Regions from separate parts of the Homo sapiens genome. Here region 2 is linked to region 1. A link means that fine-mapping ties the variant in region 1 to the expression of a gene that starts in the linked region. Tissue or cell type: lung. Region 1 holds a variant in brackets; the other region holds the start of a gene. All regions are shown on one strand. Distances are from middle to middle.

Region 1 (4,252 bases):
AGAAAACGGGATCTTACCAAGGGAGAGGGCTGCTCTCAGGACAGAAAACTAGACATTACCCCAAGGCACTTGGGGTAAACGCAGGAGATGAGAAGTGACTTGAGGACAGGAGCCACGTGCAGGCCTGTGAAGCCCCCTCAGGGGTTGTCCCCTGAATCCGAGCCTCAGAAGTGAACACCCCGGGCGTGGGGAGAGCGGGGAGAGCCCGCCTTCCCATGCACACAGGGGCCCTCCTGAGATGGTCCCTAGGATACATGGGTCTGGGAGCTGAAGCCCTGTCCTTATCCCAGTCCCAGTCCCACCCTTGTGAGACTGAGCGTCCAGCACTAACAAGATCCATCAACAGATTGGCTGGGCAGCCTCATGGCGAGCAGGTAAGGTTTGCTCAGACCAGACCCATGCAGCCAAGGGGAAGGTTGCTGCCGTGTGCGCACCCGGTCCAAGAGCAGTGGGACAGACAAGAACGAGAAGGCGCAGTCGTTGCCTCAAGGCTGACCATCTGGTTGGGTGGCTTTCCAGCTGGTCCTGGCCCTCTGGGACTTGGCGGATGGGGCAGCTTCTTGGCCTCAGACCTGCCCTGGCCAGAACCCTGTGCCACTCGGGTGTTGCGGAGGGATTGGCAGAAGGGAGTGAACGGAGAGGCGGGGGCCGGCGCTGGAGGTGGGGAGCAGGCGCCGAGGCCTAGAATAGCTGCGCTGATTACCGCCCGCTCTGCATCTGTTCTCTCCTTTCATCTGCTGCACGTGGGCGCCAAAAAGCGAGGCTGGCTCAGCCGGCAACCAGGGTGGTGGGGGTGGCAGGAGCGTGGGTGCTGAGGCCCGCAGAGCTGGTTCGGGTCTGGCCCTGCTCCTCCTAACTTCTCTGTCTTCAGTGGCTCTGTCTGTAGAATGGGGATACACCGCACCCACCTCACGAGGTTGACGGGAGGCCTGGGACCGCAACTGGAACAGGTGACACCCCCGAGGTGTGCACCGCATTATCGCTGTGCCCCTCCTCTTGCCACCTGTGGACGGGGTGCTGACACCAGCTCCTCGGGGTGGGTGGAGATTCAGTGAGATGAGGCTTGTGCAGTGTCTGGCCCTCACAGTCACACCGTACGGTGGCACCACAGGTGGCGAGCAAACCTTCTACCCTAGTCACTCCTGTCACTGCAGCAGAACCCTCCTCACTTGCCTTCCCAGAAATGGGTCATTCACAGTCTCCCCTTCCTGCTCCCAGACAATGGTGTGGTCACCGTTGGGCCAGGTCAGGTGACGGAACCATGGCAGGTGTGTTTCCCAGGGGTTTCCTTGGCCCCGGTGGCTTTACTTCCACTCCCCAAGACCCATGCCAGACGTGGACACCTGGCCTTCCAGGGCCCTTGCTGCCCGTAACATTCAATAAGCATTTGATGATGGGCTGAAAGGAGAGGTCCGTGACCACGGAGAAGGCACCGTCCTTGCCACCCAGCATACAGGCTACTGAGGGCCAGACCCAGGAACAGAAAAGCAAGACAGGTTCATTTGCCAGAAGAGAGAAGACGGGGTTCAGGGAATCTGGAGTTCAGAGAAGAGAGTGACTCTCACTAGGGGGCTGGGGAGGACTTCACAGAGGAGGTGGCATTGAACTGGGCCTTGGCATTTTCCCAGGAAGGGGTGAGATGGGGGTGGGGAGGGGGAAGTCACCATTGTTTGAGGGACCAGCCGCCCGTGCAGAGTGGGGGCTCCAGGAAGCTCACAATGGGTTCA[G/C]GGAAGCCGGGCAGTGGCCGTGGATGGGAGAGGATATGGGGGTGGGGAGAGAGGACGGGCTGAAGGTGAAAGGGTTTGCTGGGGCTCAGGAGGAAGGAGGCTTCCCCCACTTGGCAGGCACTGGGCTTACCCTGATGTGTAACTCTCAGCAGACCTCCAAATTAGGGGTTGCTGTTGCTATTTACAAATGGAGAAACTCAGGTTTGGAGGATGGAGTGTCTGACCCAGGGTCCAGCTAGGGAGCAGCTGTAGCCGGGACTTGAACCTGGGCTGCCTGCCTGGATAGTCCCTGCTCTTCCACACACGCTGCATTCTCAGACCTTCCGTCCACTTCCCTCCTGCCCCGTCCCCCACAGACAGCTGGGCTCCCCGCGGCCTGGCCACGCCTTGGGCCGTCCATCTCCTAGCTGCTTCCCTCACCATCGCCAGGCCTCCCCTGCACCCTCCACGGCAGTTGCAGCATTTATAGTGGAGGCAGTGACCACAGGCCTGCCACCAACCCCGCCTCTTCGCTGCCATCTGCAGTATGGGGAGGAGGGCCTCCCCCCACTAACACCCCAGTCCGCTCTGCTGGGCCCAGCCAGAGTCAGTGTGGGGCAAAAATCGGAAACCTTGTCTGGACATGTCTAAAGGGAGTCACAGGCCCCAACCCCAGGGCCTGTCCCTCTGCCTGGGAGAGCAGTGAGTGCCCCGCCAGATCAGAGAGAGTGAACCATAGGTCCCCTTGCTGGGACTCCAGAACCACAGGCCTCCCAAGAGTGGGGAGCAAGAGGTGCCGAGGCAGTCAGTGTGAGAAGGTGGAGGGTGAGGGCTTGGTCACGAGGCCTTGTGTCGCCTGTGGAAGGGAGCGTGCTGCCGCGGGGACAGCCAGCTTTGAAGCTCTCTGCGGGGCCTTTGGAGAAATCTGGTGAATATTTCATGTTGCCTTGGAAGAGGTGCAGAGAAACTCCAGCATCTTGTTTAACCTACTTCCTGCTTCTCCAGAGGACAGACCCTACAGGTAGGCAAGGGGGTGTGCCCTTGGGCTATGGGGGCCCCCCTCAAACCAGTGTCCCCCACCCACGCCCCACAGCAGGAGTGAGAACTGTGCAGCAGAGGCTCAGCTCCTTAAGCGCAGAAGCAGGCAGCATCTGATTGTGTCCAGGTTTGGGAGGGGGTTGTCAGAGTGCAGCCACAAAAGCCACCACCCTGTCCTAATTTCCTTTCGTTCTCCTCATCTCATATTTAAAACAACCACCTCCCACTGCCAGCTGCTATCTCCAATCCTTAGAAAGGCCGTGGGGGTGGAAGGAGAGCACGCCTAGAAGGCAGAAGACTCGAATCATTTTGAATAATATTCCCAAACTATTAGATTCCTCAGACGTGCTAGGCACAGCACCAAGCATTTCACCAACCCCATCTTCCCTAATGTGTACGTCCATTCTGTGAGGAGATGCCCTCAGTGTCCCCCTCATGCAGATGAGAAGACCCACAACCTAAGTGGCAGAGCCAGGGTTCCCCGCAGGCCTGTGACAGTTCTGAACCCTCTCCAGGGTTGCCTGCCAGCTTGAACAAGCCACTTCGCTTCTCAGATCTCAGTTTCATCACCTGCAAGACAGGACTCGCAGCTCCGGCTATGCCTGCTTCCCAAAGTTACTGTAGGGCTCCCAGGAGACAGTGGCCCTGAATGTGAGTGTGCTTTAAAGTTGGAAGGGCTGATCAAAGATTTGGGTCAGGTGCTGTGGGGGGCCATCCCTTCCTTGGGCCTCCACTCTGGGTGCGAGGCTTGGGAGTCTGGAAGGCTGGGGTGTGCCAGGTAGGTAGGTTATCATCTCTAAGCCCCTGTAGGCACTGGGCCCCTGCAGAGCCAAAGCAGGAGAGGCAGGGCGGCCACACACACACATGCACCTGGTCCAGTGACCAAGGGCCCCAGGTGGCTGGGACCAGAACCCAGAAAGACAATCCCAATGGCAATTATGTGGGAGGACTTGGCTGTTGACCCAGCAGGGTCCACACTGCGTTTGTCCTTCCAGTCTCAAAATGGCCAATGAAGCAGCCTGGAAGTTTCCATGCGACTCCTCCCTCCCCTAACAGTAGGGAGATGGCGTCATAGAGAACATGTGACATGCCAGGATGGGAGCTGGCCTCAGGTCTCCACTGCACATCAGCAGCTCAGAGTGATACCAGCTCCTCCAGAACCCCTTCCCCGCTGCAACCCATGACACATAGGCACTTTGCGTCCCCACGGTGCCACATCTTCTGTCATGGTGTCTATACCTGCTATGCTTTATTTACTCGATGGCTGGGGCTGTCTTATCTCTCTGTGCATCCCCAATGCCTAGCCCAGGGCCTGATATAAATTGAAAATGCATTGTGACTAGCAAGTGAGTGAATGAAAATAGGAATGGATGAGTGGATGGATGCGTGGGTGGGTAGATGGGCGGATGGACAGATAGATGAATGGATGGGTGGATGGGTGGATGGATGGAATAGATTTCTCTAGGAGGTGCATCAGCAATGACTGGGTCGGGCTGATATGAATCGAA
Region 2 (4,127 bases), 69 kb before region 1:
TCTCCAATGCTTGGCACTATGCCTGGCACAATGTAGGTCTCAAAACATATTTTCTAAAATGAATTCCTATATTTGTTATATATGGCAGAATTCCCTTGGCCTAAGAATGGAATGAAAGTGAAGAAATTTAAAAAAAAAAAAACTAGGAGTCATGACAATTCAGAGGGAAAATATAGGAACTATTCCAGTTTTAGGGAAGTTCCCCTGAGAATACTTCTCTGCCCATCCCTTGAGGAATCCTGTGTTAGGATTAAGGGGGGTCTCTCCCAGGACCCAGGAGAGACGAGTTTTGGGACTTCTCTGTCCTCTCCTCCTTCCTCTGCCTCCAGCAGTGGCATTAGGAACTAGTTCAGCAAACATTCACCGAGAAGCTTCCCTGGGCAGGCTTCATGCTGAATGCTGGGGATAGAGATGGGCCAAGGAAGAAGGGAGAGGCTGGGCGCCATGGCTCACGCCTGTAATCCCAGCACTTTGGGAGGCCGAGGCAGGTGGATCACCTGAGGTCAGGAGTTCAAGACCAGCCTGGCCAACATATTGAAACTCCATCTCTACTAAAAATACAAAAATTAGCTGGGCGTGGTGGCGTGCACCTGTAGTCCCAGCTACTTGGGAGACTGAGGCAGGAGAATTGCTTGAACCCGCAAGGCAGAGGTTCCAGTGAGCCGAGATCACGCCACCGCACTGCAGCCTGGGTGACAGAGCAAGACTCTGTCTCAAAAATAAAATAAAATAAAAAATAAAGTCATTCTAGGAGATCAACAGACCAGTTTAAACACAATTTGACTCCAGCCTCTGGACCCATTTATCCAAACTGTCCCCAAAGTCTCAGGGGGCAGCTCAGGTAAAGGTGGCACCATTTGGTGCCCAAGTCACAGTGGCTCTGCTGCTCTTGGCAGCAGCCCTCTCTCTTGGCATCTCCTGTCCTTCCCTGGACTTCCTATGACAGTTTCTCCTGGGGATGCTATCTCCGTGTTTCTGTCTTCACGGCACACGTGTAGATGTACCAGGAGTCCCGATGTCTCATGCATCCCCAGGACTTTAGCAGGGCCTACCGCTGGCCTTTGCCTTCCAAGAGCCCAGCCCATCTCTCTGTCCATGAGATGCTTCCTCCAAGCCCAGCTGCCTGCCCTGGGTTTTGAGGTTACGACTTCAGTGAGCACCAGCACACATCCACGCACACACAGCACTCAGGTTCCTGGCATACAGCGCTTGTGTTTGCTTCTCTCCTCTTTCACAACTCAGGTATGGATGAAAATCCCTGGCTCCTAGAGATGGGTGAACAGGGTGGACATCATCCTAACATGTGTGGAGAGAGGGAGGTGGAGCACGTGTGCCTGGGAACACTGGACAAAATCCCCGTGGCTGGAGAGCGTCCCCCAGGGTTGTGGCTTCCTGGGAAACATTCCGGTCTCTCCCCACCACCAGCGCTATGTGAAGTACACTCGAAACCACAGTGGTAGCCGTGGTGGTCCAGAGATCCTGGTTTGCGCTTTCCCTTCAAGTCAAAAATGCAGGCTTGGAAGGGAGACAGAGCTGGGAATAACCACAGCCCTCCCAAGGCCCTTCCAGCCCTGGGAATCCGTATTGGTCAGGAAAGACCTCATGGAAAATTGGAGCTGGGGATAAAGTGTGGAGGATAGTAGGATTGTTTTTAAGTTTTTAATTGCAAAGTTAATTTTCAACAAAATATATATAGACATTTTTGACAGAAGAAAGTAAAACGCTCCTCTGCCACCCCCACAGCACAGCCCACTCCCATTCCTGCTGTTCCTTCTGGGCCTGGTCCACATGCCCACCAGGCACGTGGCACCGCTTGCCAACGAAGGCAGACTGCAGTGGGGGTGGGGGGTTTCTCTGGACCTGTGAGGCTCTAAGCCCCCAAGGATTCAGAGGAGAGAATTTCCATCATCCTCTGAGATCACAGGAAGATTCTGTAATGAGGGTGGCGGGGAGTGAACTCTGCTCCTTCAGAAGGTTGGAGGTGGGGGTGACGGGCAGGTGGCCACAGTATAAACAGAAGTTAGGTCAAAATCCGAGCCTCCCCCCAACCCCCAACACTGGCCTCTTCTCCACCTCTAACCGCTCCCACTCCAGCCCCATCCACAGTCTGGTCCGGTGAAACGTGCCTAAGCTCGCAGGCGGCTCCAACGCAGCCACCCGGTGACCTTGGACAGAGGCCTGACCTCAGGTGTCTCAGTTTCCTCATTTCTATTGTGAGCCTGTCCACGGCAAGGCTCAATTGCGACCGAGCTTGTGGCGCGCCCAGTGCACAGCCCCACCCGGAAGAAAGCTCCCTCCCGGGTGGATGTGAACATAACCGGCTTGGGGAGGGGGCCCGAGCACGGGAGGGCTGGGATGGGGGTCACCCAGGAGCCCCGCCGCGCGGCCCTCGGGTCGCCGGCCCCTGCGCTGTGACCGCGGCGAGATAAGGTCCCAGGCGCTGCCCTCGCTCCTCGCCGCATCCCCGGCGGCGCCCCCAGCCGGGCGCCCGGCACTGAACGGGTGCGGGGCTGGGCCGGGGCCAGGGCCGGCCCGGGGAAGCGAGTGGGGCGGGGCCGCCGCGCCCGCTCCCCCTCCCCGCCGCCTGCCGTCTTCTCCTCCTCCCGCCGCCCGGGCTCAGAGCGGCGGCAGCAGCGGCCGCGGCGACAGCTCCAGCTCCGGCTCCGGCTCCGGCTCCGGCTCCGGCTCCCGCGCCTGCCCCGCTCGGCCCAGCGCGCCCGGGCTCCGCGCCCCGACCCCGCCGCCGCGCCTGCCGGGGGCCTCGGGCGCCCCCGCCGCCCGCCTCACGCTGAAGTTCCTGGCCGTGCTGCTGGCCGCGGGCATGCTGGCGTTCCTCGGTGCCGTCATCTGCATCATCGCCAGCGTGCCCCTGGCGGCCAGCCCGGCGCGGGCGCTGCCCGGCGGCGCCGACAATGCTTCGGTCGCCTCGGGCGCCGCCGCGTCCCCGGGCCCGCAGCGGAGCCTGAGCGCGCTGCACGGCGCGGGCGGTTCAGCCGGGCCCCCCGCGCTGCCCGGGGCACCCGCGGCCAGCGCGCACCCGCTGCCGCCCGGGCCCCTGTTCAGCCGCTTCCTGTGCACGCCGCTGGCTGCTGCCTGCCCGTCGGGGGCCCAGCAGGGGGACGCGGCGGGCGCTGCGCCGGGCGAGCGCGAAGAGCTGCTGCTGCTGCAGAGCACGGCCGAGCAGCTGCGCCAGACGGCGCTGCAGCAGGAGGCGCGCATCCGCGCCGACCAGGACACCATCCGTGAGCTCACCGGCAAGCTGGGCCGCTGCGAGAGCGGCCTGCCGCGCGGCCTCCAGGGCGCCGGGCCCCGCCGCGACACCATGGCCGACGGGCCCTGGGACTCGCCTGCGCTCATTCTGGAGCTGGAGGACGCCGTGCGCGCCCTGCGGGACCGCATCGACCGCCTGGAGGTGAGCGCCGCGCGCCGTCGGGGGAGCCGCCCGGGTGGTGTGAGGGGCCGCCCGGCCGCGGTCGTCCGGCGGTCCCCGAGCCTCCGGTCTCCCGTCTGTGTTCCGGGGACGATCGCGCCTTCCTCGCTGGCGAGGCGGGGGGATTTCGATAGGGAACGCGGGCAGGCGTCTGGCACGGTGACTGAGGCACAGAGGGCGCGCCAGAAAGATTCGCTCCCCACCCTTTTCCGTCTCCAGGCACCTCTCTGAGCCTCAGTTTCTGTGTCTGTAAAATAGGTATAACAGTGTCCACTTGTAGTGGAAATTGAATCAAATGTAGGTGTGTGAAAATGCTTGGCACGTACTAGGACCTCATTAAATGTCCCTTTCATTTCCTTCTTCCGGACACCCCCAAATCAGCCCAGCTCCACGCTCACACTTTATGGCCAGGAGATGGATGCGCTGTCCAAAGGACTTGGGGTCCTCCCCTCATTACACAGAGCCGGGAACAGAGTGCCCTATAAGACAAACCTGGGTGCCCCTCACCACCTCCCTACCCTGAATCTCCCACTCTGGCTCAGACTATGACCCAAACCGCAGGAGCTCAGGTGCCAGGCGCCCAGCCTCACACACCTGGAAGCCCACAGCTCTTGGGTGGGGGCTGAATGGAGAACAGGGCCCCCCGAGCTCCTCCTCCTCCACTCACTTTTCCAGGCTTTCCTGACTCAGGCTTGGG

The links. PIP is the estimated chance that this variant, and not a neighbour inherited with it, causes the effect.
Region 2: it holds the start of NPTXR, and the variant in region 1 is fine-mapped to the expression of NPTXR in lung (TOPMed, PIP above 0.99).

The regions. Positions count from the first base shown.
Region 1 is chr22:38,773,730-38,777,981 of GRCh38, reverse strand. No RefSeq gene overlaps it. Among named protein-coding and RNA genes, the nearest start is that of DNAL4, 18 kb to the left of the region's middle. The variant G/C (reference allele first, on the strand shown) is at 1,728.
Region 2 is chr22:38,842,520-38,846,646 of GRCh38, reverse strand. It overlaps NPTXR (neuronal pentraxin receptor), which reads left to right and starts at 2,619. Exons shown (of 5, transcript NM_014293.4): 1 at 2,619-3,412. The coding sequence starts at 2,789. RefSeq lists a silencer at 3,031-3,100.